4 separate regions of the Homo sapiens genome follow, and all the other regions are reported to be linked to region 3. The links are microRNA targets in miRTarBase. Many come from high-throughput screens and were not tested one by one. Region 3 holds a microRNA gene; each other region holds the end of a gene's coding sequence.

Region 1 (7,118 bases), not on the chromosome of region 3:
CTGCTTCAAATTCCCATACCCAATCTGTGGATATGCATGAGAATGAAAACCATGTAATAGCCTTACATTAAACACACACTAAATGTGTGATCTAGCCTCTCCGCTTCCCTTTCCTCCTCTACCCCAATACAAAGGAATACAAGAGTCACTTATGTTCTTGCCTGACATCAAACAAGTTTCCTTACCAGGCATCGAGGAGCTCCCTGCAAGGCTGACCTAATGAAGGGAGGAGCCAATCTGGCTCTCAGCTCCACCAGTTTAGGTAACATAAAAGAAGAACATGGAGCAGTCTCTCAACATTCATCTTCCTGGAAGTGTTAAGGCCCGAAGAGGGAAAAGTTCTATAAGAAACCATCATCGGGATTCACAGTCCACCACAATCTCCTGCAACAACAGTACTACTCATCATAAGATTAAAAATCGGCCGGGTGCGGTGGCTCACACCTATAATCCCAGCACTTTGGGAGGCCGAGGCAGGTGGATCACCTGAGGTCAGGAGTTCAAGACCAGCCTGGCCAACATGATGAAACCCCATCTCTACTAAAAATACAAAAATTAGCCGGGCATGGTGGCAGGCACCTGTAGTCCCAGCTACTCAGGAGGCTGAGGCAGGAGAGTTGCTTGAACCTGGAAGGCGGAGGTTGCAGTGAGCTGAGATCATGCCATTGCACTCCAGCCTGGGCAACAAGAGTGAAACTCCATCTCAAAGAAAAAAAAAGGTTAAAAATCATCCCAACGCTTTGGTAAGCTGAGGCAGGAGGATCACTTGGGGCCAAGAGTCTGAGACAAGCCTGAGCAACATAGTGAGACCCCATCTCTAAAAAAAATATATAGCCTAGCATGGTGGTGTGTGCCTGTAGCCCCAACTGCTCAGGAGGCTGAGGTGGGAGGAACACTTGAGCTCAGGAGGTCAAGGCCGCAGTGGGCCATGAATGCACCACTACCTCCAGCCTGGGTGACAGTGAATCTCAAAACAAAAGAAAATATTTTAGTATAATACCAGCAGCCATACCAAGAACGATGTGTGTTTTAAATGTATTATCTCTGAAACACTGAGGCTTGGAGTGACAGATGGGGCATAAGGCCACACAGTTGGTAAACAGTGATGCTATACTTTGTACTCAGGTCTGACTCCAAAATTTATCCATTCCAGTTGATCAGGCGGCCTCCCTCCCTCCCGTGAGAAGGTGGATGGCTGCGTGTGTGCGTGTGTGTGTGCGTGTGTGTCTATAAGCGTGCCTACAAACACATGCCTTCAGGACTTGCTGTGAGCCTACTTGGGAAGACCAGAAACATCTGAGGTGACGAGCATTCATAGATCAAGCAATAAACACGCACACCATTTATTATTGTAGTTCAATACTTTTTTCTTTTTAATTCATACTGTACTTCCATGGCTCTAGCTACTTTACATTAAGATTTGGCTGGGCAGCCTTGTGTGTTTCTAGGTACTAGCAGTAAGTTTTCTGACCTTGCGCACAGCGCCAGGCAAAGTACAGTTATAGATCCAAATACAGATGGCCAGACAACTCGACTGCACTCGACCCGTGTTCTTTCCCATAGATGGCCCAGTGCAGGTGTTGGGGCTGCTCCCTCTGCCTCACCCCACTCCACCCCACGTCAGGATTATCCAGGGGCCACTATGGCCTCTGACCCATCCCTCCCCACCTTGGAGTCTAGGTTGAGTTGGGGAAAAAGCACCATGGGTTTGGGAAGATGGTCTGGTCCATGCAGAGAGTGGTCTGGCCCTTGAGTGCAGGGTAGGAAAATGTGGGGAGCCACAAGCTATTGTTGGCAAAAATGGCTGTTTTGACTATGCAATCTCAGCACGTGGCACCCAAGCCCCAGGCCGATGCCCCAGACAGAGCCAGCTGCCTTGCCTGGAGCAGAGGCCACCCTTTTGCTTCTGCAATGTCTTATTGTATTGAGAGAAGCAAGGAGGGCTGAAGAACGACAATGTTCTTTAAGCCTTCAGATGTTGGGGAGATCGTCAGCATCAGCTCCTCCTGGCCGGCAAGGTGCTGCTCATCAGCTGCCAAGACTCCAGTCCTGGCTCCAGGGCCTGTTGAGGATCTCCAGTCACAAGACCCCGGAGCTGTTGCACAGAACATCAAAACAGGGAGCTGGCTGGGCCCTTCACAGCCATGGCCAGAGCAGAAGTGAGGTAACAAGGCTGGGCAGAGAGGTGGGAAGGGAGCTCTCTAAATAGTGTGCAAGTTTCTGCTCTGCACTATGACAGCAAGCAGGGGCCTTAAAAGATGGCCTTCCAGGAAAATGCTCCTCTCAGACCCAAAATGCATCTTCTAGAAGAAAACACAGAGGTGAAGAGGATTGGGGCCAACCTGCTGGAGGTTGGGGGAATGAAAGTCAAGGATGTCAAGGATGTCAAGTGGTGAATGGGATGATTGTCCCATAGCCTAGAGACAAGTGGCGAAGGTGGGGAGAGTCAGGAAGGGGCCCCGGAGATTCCTCCTGGAGGAGGCAGGCAGGGTATGAGGTGTAGGGAGGCCAGAGCCCTGCCATCTGGGGGAAGGGAGAAGAGTGCTATTTCTCCTGGGGGCAGTAGGAGAAAAGGGCTGGCTTTGGCTGCCCTGAAGAGCTTAAAGAAGTGGCATGGTATGACACAGAAAGTACCCTTCTGGGACCACAAGCATCCAGAAAGATACTTCCCCTAGTCCTTTCTCCAGGATCTCATCTTAGGGATACTGCCTGGAAATGTAATAGGTATAGTTCAAGTTTGGGTGGGGGGCAGGGACACGGAGAGAATCCACTTCTCACAAAGCATTCCTCTTGAGCTCTCTTTGTCCTCCCCATGTCATTCCAGGTTCTTAGTGTCAGTGTTCTAAGGCAAACCCAAGGGTTTTAGCCAAAGCTTCATACTAAATCCAAACCCTATCTTAACAAAAGAGAAGTGCTAGAACCAGAAGTGGCTACTCTCCACTGTTTCTTCTACCAATAAAGAGGAAGGATGGATAGATGAAAGGCTGAACAGACCCTAGAGATAGAAGATGAGCTCCATTGAAAAGAATGTTCTTCTCCCAACTTAGAGAAAGTCCAAAGGAAGATCCCTTCACAAACTAGGCCAAAGAGAAAGAAACCCTTCTAAGTGAATACTGAGCAATACATCAAGCTCGATCTCTCTCTCTCTCTCTCTCTCTCTCTCTCTCTCTCTCTCTCTCTTCCACTGGGCCTCCCCAGCCCTCCTAGCCACCTAAAGAATAAATTTTAATCACCCTGGGTCTCCTGGGAATGCAGACACTGCCCTACCACACCTCTAAATACTGGGAAGCTTCAGCCTCTGGGCTTGTTCCCTCCTGGCAGAGCAATTGAGAAAGTCCACCCAGTCTTCCCAGCCTCTGGCCTAACCCCCAAGATGATGTCAAAGCTAGAACCTACCTTAAAGATGATCTAGCCCAACTCCCTCCTGTGACAGGAGGATACTGAAGCTCAGAGAGGGGGAGTGACTTGCCCAAGGCCACAGAGCTTAGTCAATGGAAAAGTCAGGACCCAGGCTCAGGTCTCCAAACCGTCAGTGCAGTGCTCTTACACAGAGCTTCAAGCAGCTGATCTTGCTGGCCTGAGATGTAATCCTCTTGTCCCCAAAGAGGTGGATGAGGAAGGGAGAGAGTCGCACCATGATTAGCTTGTCTGAGGCCAGTCTTGTCAATTCTTTCACAGTAAGCTGTAATGGAACTTTAGATCCTATAGCTGTTCTTCACCTTGTTAGAAACTGCAAATTCTTTAAAATTGAGTGCAAACTCTCAAACATTTTACCACATAAGTCATTACAGAAAGACTCCTGTGTGTCCCCAGTAAACTAAAACGAACAATAAAAGCACTGGCTGGAAGAAGTTACATAAGAAGTAGTGATGTTTTGATGCTCCCTTGTAGACAGCAACTAGCCAGGCAAATGGCCAGGAATACAATGCTATTTATTTGTTTCACTCCAAGACTTATCTGCAAGGGTGAGTTAAGATGTCTTTCGCAAGCTATTGACTAAGGGGGAAGAGATTTTGTTTGGGAATGAATAGAGTTGTTGGTTTTTTCCTGGTATGATAGTCAAAAAATTATTGGAACACAGAGAGCCTACAAGAGATCCATGATTCTTAAAGGACATTCCCTATGTGCACACATTGTCTAGTGGGTTCAAATCGCTAAAAAACCAGGAGGGCTCTTCTGACATACTCAGTACTGCCCTCTCTGCCACCTTTTCCTCCTGGGAATGGTCCTGAGAGGTAAAGCAGAAGCAGAACAACTCCCTGCGGCCAGGTCTGCTCTGTCACTTGACTCCCAACAAAGAACCCTTTTTAAGTCATCCCAAAGGTCCCACCGTGGCACCTTTAATAATTAAATAACTTAAGGAAATAATTATGTATGGAATAAATTCAGGAATCTACAAGTTTTGCATTCAAAACTTTCTGGGAATAGTTTTGGCTTCTGGCTGTGCCAAGGGGGAGATTTCCAGCAGTCTGCACCATGCCTCCTTCTTTGGCTCAGAGCCCATGAGCCTTGATCCCTACCAGTGTCCCTCACCCAAAGGCCTGGACAAGAACTGAACAAGGACCCACTGGGCTGTGGGCATAGGCACTCTTCACAGGGATTACATGAAACTGCATTTCCTCCCATCTCCTCTTCTAGGGGAGGAATATCCACTCTAGCTCATGCCCTGGAGCCTCCTCACCCTCCTCCCTTGGAGGATCACCTGGGCATGGACCTTCCTGTTTTCTGATCCTGCCCTTAGGGAAATACCAAGGCCTTATTCTCACATGGAAAAGTCAAAAACTGTAATTGCCACAGGGAATTAAAGGCCATTCTAAGAAAAAAATACAACTTTATCTTTGGGGTAGATGAGTGATAAAATCTTCTGTCTTTTGGGCTGATGTTCTGGGACATCTGGGACATCTGGGGTTTCTTCTGCCCCTGTGTCAAGAAGCCCAGGAGAAGAATAAGCAAGACTGAAGACCTCTGCATGCCAAACTGGCTATGACTCTTTCATGAATCTCCACAAGCTCTGCCTGGAGCTGGTGGGACTCTTTTGGTCATTACATGAAGAAACAGTAGTTAGTGTATGAGGGATGATGAATGTGCCCAGAGGGCCCCGTGAATTCAGATAAATGCATGGTGCTAGTGGGCCAATGCTGAAAAGGCCCTGAATGTCTCACTCTTTGAAGCTAGTGCCTTCTACTTCTTAATGATCTTACACCTCTGTGGGGCCAGAGACCAGAGCAGGATTTGTACTCCAACCCCCGCCAGAACCCCCATTGCCAAGTCTGAGAAACTCAGGATTGGGAATGGCTCCCGTAGGGCATAGATTTCACTTGGCCTTTTCCTGCCCAAACACATGCACCTTTGCCAAATCCTTCCCTCCAGTGGCTCAGATGCTTTTTCTATGTGCAAACTGTCTCAGACAGTCGTCTCCACTGGCTAATGTTGGTTCGTTCAAAGAGCAAATGAGGCTGGCAACCCATCTTGGTGCTCACCACTCACAGTGTTCTGTGGGTAGACCCTGCACCCCGGACGTGGCAAGGGCCTTCTCTCCCTCTCTCAAATCCTGGAGGGCCCAGCACACCCTGACTCATCCTGGAAATCACACTGACAGCTCTAAGTGAAGGCCTCAGAGCCACAGACCTGACTTGCTTAGAAGCACTAAAAGAGGTTTAATAAGGTCGAAAACGCTCCACCCTGGCTAATAAACAATGTGCTCTTAGGGCACAGAGAAACAATAGGACTTTAGGCACTAAAAAGTGACACTTCGCCCAGATCCAGCCTGGGAGAAGACCAGAGAGAAAGCGGGTGGGAAAGTAAGAAATTCCCAGCCCTTACTGGGTCCACACCCTACACAGGTCGGAGGAAGGTGCAGGGGTGATGGAGGAGAGTATCCTTCAGAACACGAGTCTCGGGAGCCTGCCACCACACAATGCAGCCTTCCTAGCTTTCCAAGCATCCTCTCCATCTGACACTCAGTACGGTCTGGATCAAGTGGGCGGCCAACCCTAGGAGTTTAGACTGGGCTCCCTTGATGCTTCTGTGTTCCCAAGAGAATGCCTGGGGAAGCCTGGGGTAGGGAAGAAAAGATTCTCTTTTATTTTGGAAACAAATCAAAAGGGGATTAGGGAATGAAGCACCTTAAGCAATGCCGTCTTAAGACTTCTTTTTGAGACCTTAGGGTCTTCGCAGGCATAACTTTGGCTCAACATTTCCCTTCTAAAAGCCAAGAATGGCCAGCAAGGGAAGGGGTGGGGAACAGAGGGTGGGAGGAGGGAGATCAGGGGAGGTCGGTGCTGAGAGGCGGTTCCTGCCCTCCTCAGCTGCTCCACCATAAGAAAACGCTGCTCCGGCCAGCACAGGGCGCGGGAGGGCCCGCTCCTTCTCCCTGGTACATAGGCATTATCTCTTTTTTAAAATCTGTATATAATATATATATTTATATTCTGTATATATATATATTTATATATATATATTTATATGGTCTATGTACATGTATTGCACAGGCCTCTTGCAGCCACCCTGTTCCTGCCTTGTCAATGATAGCGATTCCTCTTTTCTTCACTTTCCGACGTGTAGTCGCGGGACCTGATGCCGTTCTGAAGGTTGATGAGCGAGTCCTTCATCTGCAAGACAGAAAACCCCACCCCAGGCCTGGGTCTGCGCTTTTAGTGGGATTCTCCACCGAGCAGCCCTCTCCCCACACCCGCCTAGGGCAGGCCTCCAACCACGCCATGGGGCTGAAAAGAGTCGGGCACCTAAAGCAAGGGTGGTTCTCAACACTGTTTCAAACAGAAAGGGGACAGTCAGGCTGGGTGCAGTGACGCACACCTGTAATCCCAGCACTTTGGGAGGCAGAGGTGGGAGGATCACTTGAGGCCAGGAGTTTCAGACCAACCTGGGCAACACAGAGAGACCCCATCTCTATAAAAAATTTAAAAATTATAGCCAGGCTTTGTGATATGCACCTGTAGTCCTAACTACTCAGGAGGCTGGGGTGGGAGGATGGCTTGAACCCGGGAGTTTGCAACTGCAGTGAACTATGACTGCACCACTGCACTCCAGCCTGGGCAACAGAGCAAGACCCTGCCTTTTAAAAAGAGAGAGAGACAGAGGGGGAAAGGGAGAGGGAG
Region 2 (7,118 bases), not on the chromosome of region 3:
ATATCTGGTAAGGACTGTCACCACAGGGAAGACATTGGCAGGATCATGTAACATTTGTTCATACATTTGTTGAGGACTTTTGTGTATTTGTATAAAGAAGCAAAGAAGAACAGGGAGTAATCTGTTCAACTTACAATGTGACAGATGTGCCTCAATAAGGTTACTATTTTTTTTTCTAATTTTTTTTGTTAAGAGAGATTCAAGCACAAATAAAATTATTTCTAAAAAGAGCAGAGAATAACCCTTGCCTTTTGCCTTTAAGGAATTTGCATTTTGCATGGGGAGAACATTATATAAATGTTACATATTACTTGTATATTACATTTTAACCTGAAGGACCATTCTATAAAACATTTCTTGATGTAATCTGAGTAGGATTTCACATGTAAAACAACTAAATGAAAAAAGCACAGTCTCCATAATAAACAAAAATTAATTTTTAAAAACAAAATGTGTAACCCCATCACTCTGAATTTGGGTGGAGCAACTGCAATATGGAAATCCTTTGGGAATCACACCCATAATACTACTAAGACCACCTCCCAGTTCCCAATCTGGTCACTTCTCTCATGTAGGAAATGATAGGAATACCAACAGTACCCACCATGGATTGGGTCTTGGGATTTTCTAAAAAGAAGGATAATTAGGATCCCTTGTGTTCTGATCACCTTCTGCACACATTTCATGATCCATTTTGAAGATGGTGTTTCAGCGTCCTGTGCTTTCACAGTTGCGAACGGTAGAGGTTATACAGTTTCATTCTAATTAAGTGCAGTCCTAACTGTAATACTGTTCTGTTTCATTTTCCAAAGTGAGCTCACCCATGGATGAGGTGCTAGCCTCCTTGAAGCGTGGTAGTTTTCATCTGAAAAAGGTTGAACAGCGAACTCTGCCTCCTTTTCCTGATGAAGATGATAGTAATAATATCTTGGCACAAATAAGGAAAGGGGTAAAATTGAAGAAGGTACAGAAGGATGTTTTGAGAGAATCCTTCACACTTCTACCCGATACAGACCCTCTAACACGGAGCATCCATGAAGCTCTTAGAAGAATTAAAGAAGCATCCCCAGAGTCAGAGGACGAAGAGGAGGCTTTACCTTGCACAGACTGGGAGAACTAACAAGTAAACGGCCTTATTGTCTTTAGTAGCATTCAGTAATACAGGTTTTATATCGGATGATGAGGTTTGGGGTATTTTTTATTGAGCCTGAGGCATATCGTTTGTTTTATAACCCAATTTTAGCATGGATCACAAATTTATGAACTTCAGGTTTTACTTAATTCTGTAGTTTCTAGAAACTTAAGATAACTTTTTAATGATTATTGCTATGTAAATACTATTTTTAAAAATGTCCTCCTCATTAAAAATTTCTGCTATACAGCTGTAATTGCAAGTAAAGTGACAGTCTCATTCTTGCCCTAAAAAAACAGAAAAGGGCCTGGCACAGTGGCTCACACCTGTAGTTCTAGCACTTTGGGAGGCTGAAGCAGGCAGATCACTTGAGGTCAGGAGTTCAAGACTAGCCTGGCCAACATGGTGAAACCTCTTCTCTACTAAAAATATAAAAATTAGCCGGGCGTGGTGGCGGGCATCTGTAATCCCAGCTACTCGAGAGGCTGAGGCAAGAGAATCACTTGAACCCAGGAGGCGGAGGTTGCAGTGAGCTGAGATCGTGCCACTGCCCTGGGCAACAGAGTGAGACTCAGTCTTAAAAAAAAAAAAAAAAAAAAAAAAGGCTTTCCAGGTTCAGTGGTTCGCTTCTGTAGTCCCAGTTACTCAGAGGTTGAGGCATGAGGATCTCTTGAGCCCAGGCGTTCAAATCCGGCCTGGGCAATATAGCAATACCCCGTCTGTAAAAAGAAATCAATACGTCAATTTTTTTTTTAATGCAAAGCCTTTTCTGACAAAGTATTTCAGTAACAAACTGTTATGCACACTGAATTTTGATGTCATGTTAGCTGACCTCAAAGGAGTTTTCTAAGATCATTCTGGAAAAATTGTTGCATTGTCTGATTATTTAACTTTCTAAACCCTTAAAAAAAACTACTTATTGTCACAGTTACTGTATTATCTAGACAAATTTGCAGGTATCATTAATATATAAAAATTATCTACATATCTAATGAATACTCCTATACATATTAAGATTCTCTTTGGTTACACATGTAGCATTCTCCTAATATAATAGAGAGCTATAGTCTACTACATTTTAATATACTAATTATAGAGTAATATGGCACAGATTACACCAAATATATAGAAACATTAAAGATAACATGGTATAAATTAAACAGTATATCAAATTTATAATGATGGTAACTGAAATGTTGTAATTTGTATAAAATTTATAGAGTATACAAACATGTTCTATTAATTATTATTCTTTCTTGATGGAATATGTTTCTCTAGGCTTCAAACATTCACCAAAGTAGGGAAGACTTGAGTCCTAGAAGGGAATAAGTAAAGGAATAATTAATTCATGTGTTAGCCCTGTGAATTATTTTTGTTGAATTTCTTTTTTTATTTTAGAGACAGAGTCTCCCTCTGTTGCTCAGGCTGGAGTGCAGTGGCACGTTCATGGCTCACTGCAGCCTCAACCTTCTGGGATCAAGCATCCCAAGTAGCTGGGACTCCAGACACATGCCACCATGCCGGGCTAATTTTTTAATTTCTTTGTAGAGACAGGGTCTCCTTATGGTTGCCCCGATTAGCATAATAATTCTTAAAACATGTTTGATCATAAGAATTAACTTGGGGAGCTTATTAAAAATGGACATTCTGTCCTTGACTTAAGAATTCTGAGTAGAACAACAAAGAAAAAAAATCTTTTTTTGACAGGGTTTCACTCTCTCACCCAGGGTGGAGTGCAGTGACATGATCTCGGCTCGCTGCAAGCTCCACCTCGTGGGTTCAAGTGAATCTCGTGCCTCAGCCTCCTGAGTAGCTGGGATTACAGGCGACTGCCATGATGCCCGGCTCTTTTTTCTTTTTTTTTTTTGTATTTTTAGTAGAGATAGGGTTTCACCATCTTGGCCAGGCTGGTCTCGAACTCCTGACCTCAAATGATCTACCCACCTCAGCCTCCCAAAGTGCTGGGATTACAGGTGTGAGCCACCATGCCTGGCCCAAAAAAAAGAATTCTGAGTAGATCTAATGTATATGCAAGTACACATCTAGATTTTGAAGACATAATATAAAAATGTAATGTATGTCAGTTTTTAAACAACTGATTACATATTGAAAGATTCTATTAGTTACATTAGGTAAAATATTACTGAAAGCAGTTTCACCTGTTCCTTTGGGTATGGGTTCATTAGGTAAATATTCCTGTAGTACCTCTCCACCAGCATCTGCATCAATCAATAACTTAAAAAGGGTAATATTACATTCACCATGATTCAGCCAACATTCAGTAGTAGCATTATCCTGCTTTTTTTCCTATTATGTATACAGTTACATGTAACAGTCACTTTGTATGACTTATGTTTTTGGATCCCAAAGTAACTTCGAGTTATTTTTGCTTGTACATATGTCCACTATGCTTTGTAAAGGAATATATATATATATATATATAGAGAGAGAGAGAGAGAGAGAGAGAGAGAGAGAGAGAGAGAGGGATGCATATCAGTTTGTGAATGTCTAGACTCTCAGGTATGTCTAACTGGGAATCTTTTCCATAGTGGATATTTGTAGGTTGTCTCCCACTTTACAGTTCTTACTACCATGTGTTGTTTCCTTCTGCTGTAGCTTCTCAGGAAGCTGCTTAAGCTTGTGCCTAAAACTACCATCTTTGCACTGACTAATTCCACAGCTGGACCTTCACATAAATGTGTGTTTAGCTCTTTCATTACAGATGGTCCACAGTGGCCCATTCACAGCACACCAGCAGCTGCTCAAGTCAGCCTATCCTTGTCTGTCTCCTCCCATCCCACCATATCCTGCCTAACCCTAGACATTGCATCAGCATTTTGTATACTCAAGTGGCTGGGATGTTACTCATAGCTTCTGGCTACTAATTTAGCCTTAGTATCAGATGTTAACATGGTGCATGGTGTATACACTTTGAAAATTGCTTAAAACTTTTTTCGGGGGTGTGGGAGACGGCTGATGGCTGGAATATGTGGTACAATGTTGAGAGAGAAACAGTGAAACACTTAGAAAATATATGAGCTTGGAAGTTTGCAGTCTCCCTTTACTAAATGTGTGCTAACCCAGAAGCAAACCATAGACTAGTATGGACTGATTAGGCAGTGATGAAGTAGCTGTGTATCACTACTTTGTGATCATGGAGACTAAAAGGCTGTGAACTTTTTATCTACAAATGGCTAAGAAGGCTTTACCGCAATTTGTATTTCCCATTAATTTATTAGATTCCTTTTTTTTTTCTCTCTCTCTTTTTTTCTTTTCTTCAAGACTGAGTTTCACTCTTGTTGCCCAAGCTGGAGTGCAGTGGTGTGATCTTGACTCACTGCAACCTGTGCCTCGTGATTCAAGAGATTCTCCTGCCTCAGCCTCCGGAGTAGCTGGGATTATAGGCGTGTGTTACCACTCCCAGCTAATTTTTGTATTTTTGTAGAGATGGGGTTTCACCATGTTGGCCAGGCTGGTCTCAAACTCCTGATCTCAGGTGATCCACCTGCTTCTGCCTCCCTAAGTGCTGGGATTACAGGTGTGAGCCACTGTGCCTGGCCAGATTTCTTGATTATAGATTTTGTCATTAATGTACTTATATACTTTTAAGAGCTAATTTCTTGAATATTCATAAAGTAGGTAATGAAGGTCCCTTGTTCTGCCTTGTTCGTTCCCCTCTGAAACTCTTCTCTTTCCAGAGATAGCCATAGTCATGCTCAAGGAAATTTCTTAAAATGTATGTAATTACATAGAGGTTTAAAATAAGTTTCAGGCTGAGTGTGAACTTTAAGTTTCAGGCCTGTAATTCTGCAGTACTTCAGGAGGCTGGGGGTGGGTGGATCACTTGAGCCCAGGAATTCAAGACTAGCCTGGGCAACATGACGAAACACATCTCCACTAAAAATACAAAAAGTAGCTGGGCGTGGTGGCTCACACCTGTAGTCCCAGCTACTTGGGAGGCTGAGGCAGGAGGAAATCTGTCTCAATAAATAAATAAGCTTCTAGTTTGTTTCCTGTGAGAGTCTTTTTTTTTTTTTTGAGATGGAGTCTCACTGTGTCAGCCAGGCTGGAGTGCAGTGGCGCCGTATTTGGCTCGCTGCAATCTCCATCTCCCGGGTTCAATCTGGGATTACAGGCGCACCACCATGCCCAGCTAATTTTTTTGAAGTTTTAGTAGAGAGGGGTTTCACCATGTTGGCCAGACTGGTCTCGAACTCCTGACCTCAACTGATCCACCCTCCTCAGCCTCCCAAAGTGCTGGGATTACAGGCGTGAGCCACTGTGCTAGGCCCCTGTAGGAGTCTTCTAAAGTAACTATAGCAATGTAGTTCAAAGGAAATATAGTTTGAGACATGTAATTTTAAAATGTCCAATAGTCACATCAAAAATGAAAAGGAACATGTGAAACTGATGTTTGTAATATTTTATTTGACACAATGTAGCCAAAGTAGTATCCTTCAACACATAATCAACATTAAAAACTAAGGACATTGCTTTCTATTTCTTTTTTTCACACTAAGTCTTCAAAATTCAGTGTATGTTTTATATATACTAGTAGCACATCTCAGTTTGAATGCTAAGGATCTGATACTTAATGAGAAATGTCCTACCAAAACAGCAAAATTGTATTTAATGGAAAAATAGTACTTACTGTTTTAGATTTTTAAATCAAACTGGATTTAAATCAAACTAGATCAGTCACACTAGACACATATCAAGTGCTCATTAGCCACATGTAGCTACAGTATTAGAAAATGCAGAACTGTATTAAGTTGGTACTTTATTCATGTTCCTGTCAGCTTTTATCTGAAGAGTATGTCTTTTATATAAATGCTCCTGTGCTTTGGGTACGCCCCATAGATCTTAAGCACAACACTTTTCAATAAAATGCCCGGGTGAAGTATCCATTTAAAGATTGGTATTAATCCTGTCCTCTAAATGTTAGTCTAACAAAAACAGTTTCTACTGCATTTTGAAGACACCATTTAGTTGTTCTTACTCTAGTAGCAGTTTATGGGGCAAATAGTTTAGACTGAATTTACCTTTTTAGTATATAGTTTTCATACAGTGTTAGAGTAAAAATAATAAAAATGAAAATCTAATAGTCTTTTAAAAGTGATCAAAATCTGTATTTAGATTATTTTGTTTTCATTTTTACTGCTTTAAGAATACAGTCATGGCCTTTTGTAAAAAATGTCTTTTTTACACTTTTTGAGGGAACGTAAATACACTGTATCTTTAAAGGGTCTTTTTTTTAATGGTCTGTATTATTTTGTTTGTAAACAGGTGACATAACAGAAGAAAAATATCATTCAAGATTGGTTCTGATTCTTTTGGAAAATGACAGTTTAAGCACTTGGTTCCTCAGTTGGATAACATTAGATCCAAAGTTCATTGGTTCAGTGGTGTGAAGAAAGGAAGCACAATTGGCAGGTTATCACTTTCCAGTCGTTCCAATAGATGATGGTTAACATGAATTTTACATGTGCAATGTTCCTGACTGCAATGAAGAAAAGGCCTTCTGGAGATTTCTGTTTTTTAAGCACATTCTCCTTCCATCCACATATTTACATCCTTGTAATGGCCAGTTAAGCTAGGGCTTGCTGTAAGTTGGAAGAACACTGGGTTGACAGAGATCTACTGTGAGCTGTATTGGGACTGCTTTGAGAACCATCTTTCAATGCACTGAAAAGTCATCTGAAAAAATAGCTTCTTCCATATCAGCTTATATTAAATACTGTGACACTCTGAGAAAGTTTATCATCATGATAGCTGTAAGTCAGGCATTAAAATCAAATGGAAATACACCTAAAATGTCCGCATTACTCATTTCCAAAGGATTTTTCATAAAGATGTTCAGCAACATCTGAAAAGCTGCATTTATGGAGATACATCTATTAATATGTTCACAACATGATACATTTAACATGGCATATTTTTAGGAGTCTTATACTTTGTAAGGTTTTGAAGTTTCCGTGCTTTTAAA
Region 3 (7,118 bases):
GGAACTGAGACCCTCAGACGGACAGGACCTGCCTGAAGCCGCCCCCCGAGTCAGGAGCATCGCCGAGGCTGGAGCCCCGATGCCCCGGCTCCTGGTCTAGGGTTCTGTCTCCACTCCAGCCTCCTTGGCCAGGATGGCGATGAGGTTTTAGGAGCCGAGGTTAGGTAGATGGTTGCGTTTTGGCAACAGATATTCGTGTTGGCTTCCAGTGGCAGTGGAAGCAAAGAAGTCTGCAGTCCAAAACGTTAGCTGCGTTCAAGTATCTGCGGTGTTTGTTTAAAATGGCCTCGTCAGGGACTCATCGGCAATTTTGCTTCTGCAGTTGTGGAAGACCTCATGGCACATTAGAGAAACCCAAACTTCCCCTGCTCTAAAATGATTTTCCATTGCGAGGTTCTTGGAATGTATATGTGTGTGATTTGTATGTTTGTGTGTACTGACTTCAATGAGAGGCAGTGAGCTAACAGCAAGAGCACTGGAGGGGAGTTAGGAGATCTGGTTTCCTGCCTGGCCAAAGTTAGTGGCTACTTAGTGGCAAAAGCAAATCATTTCACCCCTCTGGGCTTCAGTGGCCTGATCTATAAACTAGGGGCATTGGATTGGTATTGATATCCAAACCCTTTTCCAGATTCTGTACTCTGCTGTAATTGCTCCTCACAAGAAGGTGACTTCCTTGGCTGACACTCTGAGCAGCTACCACGGCTTCGTGGAACTTTGATGACTTGAAGGAGTCAGTCCATGCACCTCCTCATGATCCTTGGGATCTGGGAATTGTGGAGATTGTCTCATAGCTCTTCTTCACCCCACCCCCTTTTTTAAAAATGTGAGGTAACTGAAACTACAGTTAAGCAACACTGCCATTTTTTTTTCTTTTTTGACAGAAAGTCTCACTCTGTCGCTTAGGCTGGAGTGCAGTGGCACGATCTCAGCTCACTGCAACCTCTGCCTTCTGGGTTCAAGCGATTCTCCTGCCTCAGCCTCCCGAGTAGCTGGGATTACAGGCGCGTGCCACCACGTCCAGCTAATTTTTGTATTTTTAGTAGAGTCGGGGTTTCACCATGTTGGCAAGGCTGGTCTCGAACTCCTGACCTCAGGTGATCCATCCACCTCAGCCTCCCAAAATGCTGGGATTACAGGCGTGAGCCACGGTGCCTGGCCTGATGACACTGCCAAATTGATCAAGTAAGTCAGAGGCAGATCCAAGATCTGGAGCCAGATCTCTTAGGTTCTGGGCCAGAGCCCTTTTACACCTGAAATTTCCGTGCTTGCTAGAGGGTCAAACCACTTCTCTAACATCAGAAAATTACTGAAAAACCGTTGCATTAGTATGTTTTGAAAATTTTATAGATTGCTAACTTACAAATTTTTTTTTACACCCAGAAGCCATGACAAGAGGAAAAAGCTTTATTCCATGGAGGGGAGAATTCCCTTCTGTCCCTTACCACCTTCTCCATCCATGTTTCTCGCCAGGTGGATAAGATTGTGGACCAGCTGCAGCAGTTAATGCAGGTGTATGACTTGGCTGCCCTTCGGGATTATTGGAGCTACTTGGAGCGTCGGCTCTTCAGCCGCTTGGAGGATATATACAGACCCACAATCCACAAGCTGAAAACCAGCCTGTTTCGATTTTATCTTGTCTACACAATCCAGGTGCCTGTTGATTCAGGGGTTCTGCTTCCCTTGGTGGAAGGAGCTCTTTGATCCCAAAATAGATTTTCTTCCAGTTCCTAGGGAGGAATCTGTATGTGACTATGGGAAAGAGTGCAGCAGTTACAGTGCAATTATTTTTGACTGTTTTTCTTCTTTTTTTTCCTTGTCGTCATCTGTAGATCATCTGACTTGTCTTCCCCATTCCTATTTCCTTTTTTATGTTAAGCATGTAAGCTTAAAACAAAGGTGGTATTTTAAAGAATATAAGTAGCTGGGTTAAAGTTTGAGTAATAAAGATGATAGCTGACCTGGAGGAATGAGTCACTTAGTTATTTGAACATCAGCTAGGGATTAATTTTTAGGATGGGATTTATCATTAGAACTTCAGCTTAAACCAGCTTTGAAATGACAAGTTCCTTGAGAAAAGAGTGATGATTTCCTTTATATTATGGAATTTTATTTTGCCACTTACCTGGCAGGCTGATAGTCAAAGGTTGTCTGCTGTGCAATGATGAAGAGTCTTACCTCTGGATTTCTGTCTCTCCTCCCTCCTTGCTACCTCCTTGTGTCTTGGCAGACAAACAGAAATGACAAGGCTCAGGAGTTCTTTGCAAAGCAGGCCACGGAACTCCAGAACCAGGCTGAGTGGAAGGATTGGTTTGTCCTGCCCTTCCTGCCATCCCCGGACACCAACCCCACCTTTGCTACCTACTTTTCTCGACAGTGGGCTGACACCTTCATTGTGTCCCTGCACAACTTCCTGAGCGTCCTGTTTCAGTGCATGCATATCCTTTCAGTTGCCTGGGGCTGAAGGCCCAGCCTGAGGCACCCAGACCTCAGGATCAGTAGCCCGCTGGTCTCCATACAGGCATTTCTTCTACAAAAATGCCCAGGGACCATTTTTATGGGTCACATGAGGGGGCTGGACAAATTGTGGTTGTTTTTGTCAGTAAGCCAGGGAATCATAAATCTTAGTTCTGACACTGTGCTGCTGAAGTATTAGCTGACGTGTGGGCAGTGACAGTGGCAGCAGTGGGGTGCTAGTACTGGCTTTGTCAGCAGGCACTGGGGTTGGAAGGCAGCTGCTGCTTGGAGAAACCGGGCAGCCTTGAGAGTACCCTCTCTGTGCATGAAACGTGTTCCCGGGGATATACCTTTGCTGGGATTAGGTACAGATGAGAAGACTTCTTGGGTTGGAACTTCTGTCTGTGTTAGTGTTTGGGTTATTGTCTCTAATAGTAACTTCAGTGTTCCTCAAGTTGCCAGAGAACACAGTAGCTTTAAGAATATATATGCGGGTATTGGAGAGGGGGAATGAATGAGAATGCAGGTAAATAATTTACAGCCTACCAAGTGTACAAGCCAGAGCTCCCAAGGCCATTGTTCATGCTCCCTAGGCTGGAAATTTAGAGGAGGAGAAGGGAGTCTGGCTTGAATGGGGCTGGCTGGTGAGGCACTGATAAACTTGGGTGTTTAGAGGCCCACCCATGGGCAGGCGTTTTGGCCTCTGGGAGGAACACTTTCTGGTGGAGGTGGGAAGGGCACCTTTCCTGCCTTCACCCTTTCTGTGCCCCAGATGAGTGTGAATTCCACCCTTGCCAGAACTGCCTTGTTTCTTCCCCGTTGTTCCCTCTCTTCATCCTGAGGGCTCTCCAGTTAACTTTGTGGGCCCTCCAGTGAAATCGAAACTGTCACTCAAGATCTTTTCAGTGCTTCTCAAACTAGCTTACACACATATGGGCTCTAGTCCCCTCTCCAGTTCTGAGGCCCTGTCTGCTCTGTGCTCCTCCTAACTGAAGCTGCCTGAGGCAGTGGAGAAGGACCAGTATCCCAAGCTATAGACTGTCGTTGTTCTTGGGGTGGCCACGCAATCTGCAGAAAGCTTTCTCTTCTCAGTCCAAACCTTTGCCAGGGAGAGGCTCAACCTGGGGAGGCGAAGCCAACTGACTGGTCTTTTCTGCCTCATTGGCTGTATTACTGCAGAGCCACTGGCCTCCAGGGCTGCTTTTAGCTGAATGTAGTGACCTCACTAAAGCTCAGACTGGCTGTGAAGTCCACTGGATGCTAGCTCTTTGCTTCTGGTATTTGAGAGAAAATGCTTAGGTTTGGATTTATGTCCCCTCTGTGGGCTGGCCAGGCAGATGGTCATGCGTCTGTGAATCTGTCCGAATGAAATGAGGCCAGACCTAGAGAAAGTCTTAGAGACAAGACTGTAGGGAGCGACTATTTCATTAAGCCCGCAAGAGCCCACAGCACCGCTCCTATACTCTGTTCTCTGTGTCCCTGTGTCTCATGTGTTTTACTGGTGTGTCAAGGGTTTGGGAAGGACGTTTAAACATTTCAGGGGCTGGCTTATTCTTTAACTTCGTGCACCAGTCCCTGTGATCCTGAACTTTGATGCGGAGTGTCAGAGGACTAACCAGGTTCAAGAAGAAAATGAAGTTCTGCGTCAGAAGGTTTGTTCTGAACAGGCTTGCTCCTGAGGAAGTACTTCTGCTTTTTGTGTGTGAAATTAGGTAGTGGCAGTGGAACACTATATTAATCAGGTTTCCACTGCCACTACCTAATTTCTCAGATGGAAATGAGTCACCAGAAAGTCAGTATTGGGGATTTGGAGAGTAACAGTCTCTGAAAACCAGAGGCGAGATTCATATTTTAAGTCAGATATGTAGCATGAACAATATAGTAACAGTAATTAACTTTTAAGGAGAAAAAGACTATATGCATCCATGCCACCTTATAACTAACCTGTTTTCATGTGTCTGTTTTGTCTTTCCACGTATAGCTATATATGTGTGTATATATATATACACATATATATGTAAACTATATGTATATATATAAACTATATATACACACACACACATATATATAGTTTATAACCCATATATAATTTAGTTGTTCCTACTCAGCTATATGCTTCTCTAGTTTGATAAAACAATAGAGCCAGGGGACCCACATTTGCCTGTACATGTTGCCTGAGGAACATTTCTCTTTCCTGAAATTAAGATCTCCTTAGGTGATATTGTTAGGAAAAGGAAGATTATAGGCTGTTTAGGTTATGGGGTTTAAGATTCTTGGGATTTGGGGTGTGTGTATATGTAATTTTCTTCAGGCAAAAGGTTAAAAACGCTGTAGTTCATTAACAGGTTTTTTTTTTTTTTCCATTCCAGAGTCAGGCTTTGAGAGTTCTAAAGCCTGATTTTGTAGATTCTAAAAAGCAAAACAGGTTGGGTGGAGCTATTTTTCTCAGTGAATCTAGGAGGAAGCAAGTCAAATGATTAAAAAGAAAATGGGTTTTGGATTTCTAATGGTTTTTGGTTTTCTCACCTCATTGTTGTCCAGTGACAGCAGTCACTTTTCCCAGTCTGCAGTGAGCAGAGTGAGATGGGCCCCTTGACGCTGAGGCGAGTGGCACTCAGACCAGTGGGCTTGGATGCGATGTGTCTAGAAATCTTCCTCCGCAGAGGGAAGGTTAGGTGAGATCATTGGCTAACTCAGTCCCACCCCTGTATAGCTTTTTGCATTGCAAGCTGAAATCCACCGACTGAAGAAAGAGGAGCAACAGCCAGAAGAGGAAGAGGCCTTGGTCCAACACAAATTGCCTCCTTATGTCTCCAACATGGACCGCCTGGGGGACTCGGAACTGTGAGTGTGTGTGACGGCCCTTTCCTTTTCTTTGCCCTCTGTGCTCTCAGCCCCACAGTTCCCTCTGATCTTGCCTTGCCTGCAGTCCTCTGTGCCTGCTGAAGGAGAATTGCGGAAGAGCCTCCTGGCACACACTGCTCTTGCTTGAGAGCTTTATTTTTATTTTTAGAGATGGAGTCTCGCTCTGTCGCCCAGGCTAGAGTGCCGTGGCACAATCTTGGCTCAAAGCAACTTCTGCCTCCTGGGTTCAAGAGACTCTCCTGCCTCAGCCTCCCAAGTAGCTGGGATTACAAGTGCATGCCACCATGCCTGGCTAATTTTTTTTGTATTTTTAGTAGAGATGGGATTTCATCGTATTGGCCAGGCTAGTCCCAACTCCTGACATCAAGTGATCCACCTGCCTTGGCCTCCCAAAGTGCTGGGATTACAGGCGTGAGCCACCGTGTCCAGCCTTGCTTCAGAGCTTTATGAGTAAGGTCCCCATGGCCTCAGAAGTCCTCTAGGAGTTCTGAGCCTCCGAGCCTGTGGCTCTGCCTAGAGGTGGGGAACTGCACAGCTCTGCCAGCTCTACATCCAGATATGTGTAGTCAGGATAAATAAAAACGCAACCACTGTGGTAAAGTCTTGGGAAGGTTTTGTGCATTGGAAGGAGCATCTCATGTATGGAAAGATTGGTAACCACAGGTTGGATGCATTCCTCAGTAGAAGCATGCACCTCTCTGACGGTTTAAAGAGGAAGGCAGATTAGAGAGAGGTATTTGACCTTCAGAAACAGCCAGTTAAAGCAGAAGCCCCAGCTGGTGATAATAATAGTAGTGGTTGAAGAAACAGAGGTACACACAGGTGAGGAAGACAGTGATTGGTGAGTCACGATGCAAACCCAGGCAGCCGGATTCCAGACCTCCACATAGCCAAGTATTGCACCAGATGAAATAGCTCTAGTGGTGGTGCCAGTTCTTTCTGATGGAAATAAAATGCGAGCCAAATACGTAATTTAATTTTTTTAGTAGCTATGTTAAAAAAAAAACAAGATGAAGTTAATTTTAATGATATATTTTATTTGGCCTAGTATATTCAAAACATCATTTCAATATGTAATGGATATAAACAAAATGTTAATGAGCTATTTTATTCTTTTCATGCCAAGTCTTTGAATTCCAGTGTCAATTTTACATCTCTAGCACATCTTGATTTGGACTAACCACATTTCATTTGCTCAGTAGCACACGTGACCAGTGGCTATTGGACAAGACAGCTCTGAGTTTACTGTGACCCTCAAAGAAGAGCCGCAGACTTCACCCTTGTAACAGATAAGCTGCTGGCTCCCTTTGTGCAAAAAAATGATGCCAAGGATAATACCACCTTAAAGCCCAGGCTCTTGGACCTGACCCAGGCCTGGTCACTTAACGTCATCCATAGCCCGGGAGGTCTATGTTCTTGGTTTTTCCACATCCTGTTTCAGCCCTCTGACCCTGTGGTGTGTTTGCTGACCAGTGCCATGGTGTGCAGCCAAAGGAATGCCTCCCTCTCCCAGTCACCTCGTGTGGGCTTCCTGTCCTCGCTGCTGCCTCAGAGTAAGAAGAGCCCCTCAAGGTTGTCGCCTGCTCAGGGCCCTCCTCAACCTCAGAGCTCGGCCAAGAAAGAGTCCTTCGGTGGTCAGGTAAGCACAAGTCCTGCCTCTCTAACTCTGGCCAAGAAGGCCGTGACAGCTCCCTGTGCTTCCAGACCTCCTGGTCAAGTGTAGACTTGTTTGCCCTCCTTTTAGGACTGATTTCTTGGGCATGTTGATGAGATTCTGAATTGAAATCTCATTCCCTTTC
Region 4 (7,118 bases), not on the chromosome of region 3:
TTCCATCTGTAACACTAACCTTCCCCTCAGACCCTCCCCATTATTGAATGAGGAAATGCAGCCTAGCTGGGGAGTAGAGTGTTCACCCCCTCAACCCCTGGGCCTTTCCAGATCACCCTCCCTCCAATTCCTGGCCCTTTCCTGTTGGAGGATTTGGCTGCTGGTCCCAGGAACATAACTGGGAAAAATCACCCCCTGAGCTGGGGTACAAAAACCCTAGGCCCACAAATCCAGTGAGGTTTCTTCCATCATACTGACCCTTCTCCTTTGACTCCCTGGGTAGAGTTCAGCCCCTACCCCAAAAGCACCATCAGAGCAGAGTCCTTGTGCCCCTGGTCTGTGCCTGGGCTCAGGCTCATAGACCCTCAAGAAGGGCGCCTGAGTCCAGCCTTAGCTGACCCTGCTGGACCCCCAGATCAAGGTGATGCACAAGCAGCTGCTGCTCTTCCACAATGCTGTGTCCGCCTACTTTGCTGGGAACCAGAAACAGCTGGAGCAGACCCTGCAGCAGTTCAACATCAAGCTGCGGCCTCCAGGAGCTGAGAAACCCTCCTGGCTAGAGGAGCAGTGAGCTGCTCCCAGCCCAACTTGGCTATCAAGAAAGACATTGGGAAGGGCAGCCCCAGGGTGTGGGAGATTGGACATGGTACATCCTTTGTCACTTGCCCTCTGGCTTGGGCTCCTTTTTCTGGCTGGGGCCTGACACCAGTTTTGCCCACATTGCTATGGTGGGAAGAGGGCCTGGAGGCCCAGAAGTTGCTGCCCTGTCTATCTTCCTGGCCACAGGGCTTCATTCCCAGATCTTTTCCTTCCACTTCACAGCCAACGGCTATGACAAAACCACTCCCTGGCCAATGGCATCACTCTTCAGGCTGGGGTGTGCTCCCTGACCAATGACAGAGCCTGAAAATGCCCTGTCAGCCAATGGCAGCTCTTCTCGGACTCCCCTGGGCCAATGATGTTGCGTCTAATACCCTTTGTCTCTCCTCTATGCGTGCCCATTGCAGAGAAGGGGACTGGGACCAAAGGGGTGGGGATAATGGGGAGCCCCATTGCTGGCCTTGCATCTGAATAGGCCTACCCTCACCCACCCACCCAGTTTAATTGTGCTTAGAGCCCAAGAAGATTGGGATCTAGCACTAGGAATAAACCTTTCATAAAAGCAGGCCCAGCGAGGTCAATTTGTCGGGGACTCTAGGAGGGTGGCCTGGGTGGAGACAAGCTCAGTCTAATCAAACACCAGAACCCTATCAAGTCAAAAGAGCTGGGGCCAGGCAGCTGAAGTCACAGGTTTCAGAGATGGTTTGAAGGCCCAGTCTTCTCTCCCAGCCTCAGTTGGAGCCAAAGCTTTGTCCTTTAGCCAGCACCAAGATAGCTATGGATCTTAAGAGCACCAGATCCAGAGGGGGTTGGGTTTGCTGACCTTCATCATGCATTCATTCATACAGCAAATATTTACTGAGTGCTTTCATTTGCCAGGGACTGCGTTAGGCCCTGGGGAAACATCAGTGAATAAAACACGGTCCCTGCCCACAGTGCTTAGGGCCTACTGAGGGAAAGAAGTAACCAGGCAACTACAAAACAGTGATAAGTATTAGGATACAGAAGTACAGAGGGCGCTGTGGGAGCACAAAGGAGGGGCATCTGGCATGGACTGGGGTGGAAATGGGGATGTCAGTTTGAAAGCTGAGACCTGGCCAGGTGCGGTGGCTCACTCCTGTAATCCCAGCACTTTGGGAGGCCGAGGCGGGCGGATCACCAGGTCAGGAGATCAAGACCATCCTGGCTAACACGGTGAAAACCCATCTCTACTAAAAATGCAAGAAAATTAGCCCGGCACGGTGGCTGGCGCCTGTAGTCCTGTAGTCCCAGCTACTCGGGAGGCTGAGGCAGGAGAATGGTGTGAACCCGGGAGGCGGAGCTTGCAGTGGAGCCAAGATTGCGCCACTGCACTCCAGCCTGGGCAACAGAGCGGGACTCCATCTCAAAAAAAAAAAAAAAAAAGCTGAGACCTGAAGGGTGAGTAGATGACAAACAGGCAGGGTAAAGGGAAGAGCATCCCAGGCAGAGAGGCTAGCATATAATGAAGGCTCTGAGTAGGAACTGGGAGGAATTGCTTGGAATGAAAAATGAAGAGGGAGTGGCTAGATGAAGACTGCAGGCTGGTTAAGGACTTTTGCCCTCTGGAGAAGGAGCTGAGAAGTGTTTTAAGCAGAAATTTGACTGCATGGGAGAAGTATAGAGTTGAGAAAAGTAGTCCTCTGAGGCTTAAGATAGTGTCATCTAGACTCCAGTTCCCTCATCTTGGGTAGCATAGTAGCCCCAGCCCAAAACTGCAAGCATGATCCCCGTCTGGGTTTCCTTCACAAGCACTGGAGCATCTTGTGCTATGTGCTGAACTCAGGTGGATAAGAGGTTGAGGCGGTTCCCAAAGCTCCTGCTGCACCCAGGTGTTGAGCCTAAATCTGAACCTTGTGGAGAGGTCACAAGAAAGATCCCTAACAGCACTTTGGTTTAGTCAGGGCTAGGTGTCATCACCTGTATGCCCTTTGGCCAAGGAAACCAGAATTTTTCAGGATTTTCCCCACCTCTGGAAGGCTGGAGGAAGGGGAAGACCCACTCAGCAGATTCCCATAGTGCAGGGATCCTCACAGGCATGACTTTGCCCTTTGTCATGGATACTGCAGCTCCCAGACAGTCTTCTGGGCTTTGATCAGCCTGCAATCATCTGACTAGAGCTTGATTTTTGGGGCAGGGAAGGTGGTCCTTATATGAGCTGCCACTTAATGGGCCACTGGGGATTTTTCAACATGAAAGGTACCGAGTCTCCAAATGCTGGTTGTAGGGCCTAAAAACAGGGCTCAACTCCAGGTTCTGCCACTTTCTAGCTGAGTGATGAGGGCTAACGTCTGGGGAGCAAGATCCCTATTTTTTCCCATTGTAAAATTGGGCTAATAAAAGATGCTACCTACTGACTATTAAATAATATATGTAAAGTGGCTAGTTCTGTGTCGGCACATAATAACCACTCAGTCCCTGTAAACTGTTACAATTATTTTCCACTTGGGGCTGCTTTTTGCACAAGGCGATGATTCTGAGAATTGTCCAGTGTCTTTGGTGTGAGGAAGGGAGTCGCTGGATGGTCTGAACCAGAATTTCCTCAGGAGGGGGCTCCTGAAGCGCCCAAAGCCTAATCAAATCCCCCACCTTTCTACCCCTTAACTCCTTCTCCCAGAGTTCTGGGTACTGCCCTTCTGCCGCCCAGAGATCGTGCTGAGGTACAGACGGTTTCTACGTCTTCCTGGTCAGCCGATAGACTAGCATATTCCATAGGAGCACTCCAAGGAAGCCGGAAAGGGCGCCTCCAGGAGGCAGGCGGCCCAGACAGGCTCCCAGAGTCCGAAATCCCTGCTGCCCCAGCTGCCTTTTCTTGACGGAGTCTCATCTCAATCCCTGAGACCGACTACACCGCCCTTCCCGGAGCCGGAGGCAGCTGGCGGAGATCCGGGATCCGAGATCCGGGATCCGGCTCGCCGGCCCGCCGGCTCCCTAGCAGCACCAAGGAGGCAGCGTCCGCAGGAGGTGGAGGCGTTGGCGGGGGGGCGTGCGGGTGCGGTAGGGGTGGGCAGGCGGGGTGGGCGGGGCCTCCGCGGCGGCGGGCGGGGCGTGGGTGGGTCTTCCCTACTGGAGTCACCCCCTCCCCCGGCCGGTCCGCAGCCCCGCCCCGGCCCCTCCCTCCGGCCTGTGCGGCTAGTCCGGCGGCGGCGCCGGCGCGGGGACAGGCGGAGGCGCGGGCAGGGCCGGGCGGACGGGCGCTGGCAGCAGTAGCAGCGCCGCGGGCCCTTCAGAGTGGCCGCAGTCCGAGCTTTGCCCTCGCATCCTGTTCCAACGCGGTGAGTGCGACGGGCGGGCCCCAAGGGTGCGTTTGTATTCCTGTCAGCCCGGGTCTGGGTCGGAGCGTCTGTGGGTGGGGGCACAGATGATTTTCAAAAGCTGTGCCTCTCTCTGCCCACGTGAGGCGTGTCCATGTCCGTGAGAGCAGCAGGGGGATTCTTCGGGCTGTGGCTGCTCACGTGAGGTCCCTGTTTTGAGGCGGGGAGGCGCGGGTGGATGGGTGATGGTTCCTTAGGGGAGCGCGGGGTTTGGGAGCTTGTGTGTGTTGGCGGAGGGTGCTGAACGCTGCGGCCGAGGGTGGTGGTGGTGGTGCGTGCTGAGTGGGACTCTGGAATATTGTGGCCCATCTTGTCTGAAGGGCTCTTTTCTCCCTGGTGCAGACACCTCCACCCCTTGCTCCCCCACCCCCACCCTACCCCACCCCCCGCCCCTTCCATCCTCTGGTACCCACAGGCCCACCAGTCAGGATGGAGGACACCCTTTCCTCCCCATGCACTGCTCTGTGGACAGAAAGCCTCATGTGGAGGCTGTTTTTTTGTAGGAAAGGACCCCTCTGGTTCTCCTGTAGCCTGAGCCCTGCCTGGAGGACCCCAGGCCCCTCCCTGGTTCTGACCTCCTCCCTTCTGCAATTGGCTTCAGATCCTGGGCTGCAAACCTGCAGGGACAGATGGTTGCAGGTTGGAGGGGCAGGCTGCACCCCAGGGAGGTCAGTTCGACTGAGGGCAGGCCCTGGGCTTGTTCTTGGTGTGGGGGTTCTCTGATGTGGACAACAGAAACTCAGGACTGGCCCTAGCAGGAAGATCACATCTGGGAGGTCACAGCAGGTGCAGAAAACATCACAGGTCTCCCTTGGCCAGTCTGTCTAGCTCACTGGTGCCCATTCATCCCCTAAGCAGGGGATGATTTGCTGCAGAATTGGAATCAGAGCTGCAGGCCTGACAGTAGCCCTGCCTCCTTGGGCTTGTATGCCTCCAGTGACAGAGCACTTGCTACTTTCTGCTGTGGAAAAGCTTCCTTATATTAAGCAGAGGTCTCTCTTCTTGGGACTTTATTCACTTGTCTTGTTACTGCCATTACTTTTGCATCTCTCTCTGATGAAAGGGAACTGCAGAGATTTAAACAGAGCTCTCCTGTAACCAACATATACTGAGTACTTCCTGTGTGCCAGGTACTGCCACAGCCACTTAGGAGACAATGGCATTCTTGCCGAGAGAACTTGAGCAAAGAGTCCATCGTTGGGATAGTATAGCCCAGGTTCAGAAAAGCAGAAAAACCATATGGTTAGAATAGAGAGCGTTCATAGAGTGTCACAGGTGACTTAAAACTCAGCAAACATTTATTTACGGGGGCGAGGGGGCAGGGGGAGTGTGGAGGGGAGGCAACTAAGACCATCCTCTAACACATTTAGCCTAACAGTGGAAACTAGAAGTCAAATCATCGAGGTAGTACAAGATGGGATTTAATCATGGGCTCATGGTACAATCTGTGGAAGCCCTTGGCTTGAGAGGGAACCTTGGGAATCTCAGATTTTGAGAAAACATCCCTCTTCTCCCAATTTACAAATAAGGGAATGGGGTTGGAACTTACCTAGAGTTTCACCTTGTGTTAGTGGAGTTAGTTACAGCATTAGGACTAGATCCTAGATCTCCTAACTTTTTAAACCTAGCCAAATTTCAGAGGCAGAATTGAGGATGTAGTCATAGCTTGTATCTGAAAGGTGAAAGAAAAGGTGTAATTGAGAAGACTACCAGGGTTCTCGCTTGTGTGGGTGGGTGAGTGGTGGTGCCTTTTATTTATTTATTTATTTAGATTTATTTATTTTTAGCATATTTATTTTTATGCTTTTAGGATGTAAAAGCATCATGTATAACCTCTGCCTTTTGGAGATTTGCAATCTTGTCCATCTGTTCCATATTTCTTAGTTTCTCATGTTTCTGTTTCTTTACTCACTGTTTTCCCAATGTACGTATCAATGTCCTATTTGTCTCTCAAGACCCAGCTCAAATACCCCTTCCTCTGGAAGCCTTCTTTATTCTGTACCATCCTCAGAGTTAGGTACTTCCTCCAGTTTGCTGCTGTAGCAATTTGAACATGTCAATATCATGGTACTTATCACATTGTAGTTACGTGTTTCCATTTCTGTTTCTCACATTAGTCTAAAAACTTGTGAAAGACAGGGAGTGTGTCTGATTCAGCTTTGTGTCTCTATTTCACAGCTGAAGGACCTGGCCCACAGTGTGCCCAGAGAAGTTTGATTGAATGGTTCATTCACTTTACTCAGTCTGGCAATGTTGGGGGAGATGGCCATGAATTTCATTGCTTTCCTTCCCTGCTAATCTTATTTAAAGGATTCATTGGCTTTAAGGACTTTGCCTCATCCAAGGCTTCATTTGTTTCAGAGAAAGCCCAAAGACTGTAACCTGCAGTCATTTGTCATTTTTTTGAGGTCTCAAATGATCAGATAAACCTGGAAGCTAGTGAGTAGACGTGAGTTATTTTAGCAAGCAAATGAGCCTAGCTGACCTCTCGCATCCATTTTCAACAATGCCTTGGTTACCTCCATTCACAACTGTGTAACTCATGTGTACTGGGAATCCTGTGAGATTGTAGGAGGAAGTCCTGGGGAAAATTAATGCTATTTGAGAATTTGGAGAAACTGAAAAGCCTTGAAACACATCCTTTGCAGATGTCCAGGATCTAGTGGAGTCAGCACTGGCTGTCTTCATTTGTTCACAATCAGCTTCTTGCTTGACTCCCTGCATCTGGCTTCCTGTCCTCCATCCCCTGAAAACCACATGCTCTGAGGTTAATGAAAGCCTCTTTGGGGCTTAAATAATGGGACCTCTGCAGCATTTCACTCCCTTGTTCATGAAGTTCTCTTCTCCCTTGGCATTCATGACATCTGTTTCCTGATTCTCTTGCTTCTCTGGTTGTGCCTTCTCAATCTTCTTTGCAGACTCTGCTTCCTGGGCCTATCTCTTAAATATTGAGGTTCCTTGGGACTTGGTGATAGACCCTCCTTTCTCTCTTTACCCTCTCAGGGTAATGTCATCCACGCCCATGGCTTCAGGAACCATCTCTGCACCAACATCCACATTCATGTCTCCAGGCCAGACCTCTCTCTTAGGCTTCAGCGTATCTTTCCAACTGCCAACTGGACCTCTCCACTTGAATTACATCCCATAGGCACCTCAGATTCATCACATTAAACAGTGAACTCTAGC

Evidence for each region. The annotated mature microRNA hsa-miR-6509-3p reads UUCCACUGCCACUACCUAAUUU and lies in region 3 at 4,199-4,220, shown strand. An mRNA with a match to its seed (bases 2 to 7 or 8) in the 3' UTR can be bound and repressed. Matches are read on the target gene's strand: a 7mer-m8 pairs with bases 2 to 8, a 7mer-A1 pairs with bases 2 to 7 and ends in A, and an 8mer does both.
Region 1: miRTarBase lists GRAMD1B as a target of hsa-miR-6509-3p. Seed matches in the 3' UTR shown: 7mer-m8 at 5,417-5,423, 8mer at 3,180-3,187 and 7mer-m8 at 2,937-2,943.
Region 2: the mRNA of JMY is a reported target of hsa-miR-6509-3p. The part of its 3' UTR that is shown has no 7-base or 8-base seed match.
Region 4: miRTarBase lists ARFIP2 as a target of hsa-miR-6509-3p. The part of its 3' UTR that is shown has no 7-base or 8-base seed match.

What each region holds. Positions count from the first base shown.
Region 1 is chr11:123,621,999-123,629,116 of GRCh38, reverse strand. It overlaps GRAMD1B (GRAM domain containing 1B), which reads right to left. Exons shown (of 20, transcript NM_001387025.1): 20 at 1,350-6,611. The coding sequence ends at 6,522. Among named protein-coding and RNA genes, the nearest start is that of SCN3B, 29 kb to the left of the region's middle.
Region 2 is chr5:79,315,188-79,322,305 of GRCh38, forward strand. JMY (junction mediating and regulatory protein, p53 cofactor) reads left to right here. Exons shown (of 11, transcript NM_152405.5): 10 at 813-1,123; 11 at 6,419-7,118. The coding sequence ends at 1,120. LOC102724530 (a long non-coding RNA gene) reads right to left here. Exons shown (of 3, transcript XR_001742756.1): 3 at 1,822-2,447. Among named protein-coding and RNA genes, the nearest start is that of JMY, 83 kb to the left of the region's middle.
Region 3 is chr7:135,204,108-135,211,225 of GRCh38, reverse strand. MIR6509 (microRNA 6509) reads left to right here and starts at 4,148; the gene lies at 4,148-4,232. WDR91 (WD repeat domain 91) reads left to right here. Exons shown (of 15, transcript NM_014149.4): 2 at 1,471-1,650; 3 at 2,228-2,435; 4 at 4,024-4,106; 5 at 5,168-5,298; 6 at 6,793-6,958. RefSeq lists an enhancer at 1,168-2,367 and a silencer at 4,157-4,316.
Region 4 is chr11:6,470,566-6,477,683 of GRCh38, reverse strand. It overlaps ARFIP2 (ARF interacting protein 2), which reads left to right. Exons shown (of 8, transcript NM_001376558.2): 8 at 416-1,165. The coding sequence ends at 571. It overlaps TRIM3 (tripartite motif containing 3), which reads left to right and starts at 3,743. Exons shown (of 12, transcript NM_033278.4): 1 at 3,743-3,893. RefSeq lists a silencer at 3,617-3,846 and enhancers at 3,204-4,142, 4,143-5,082.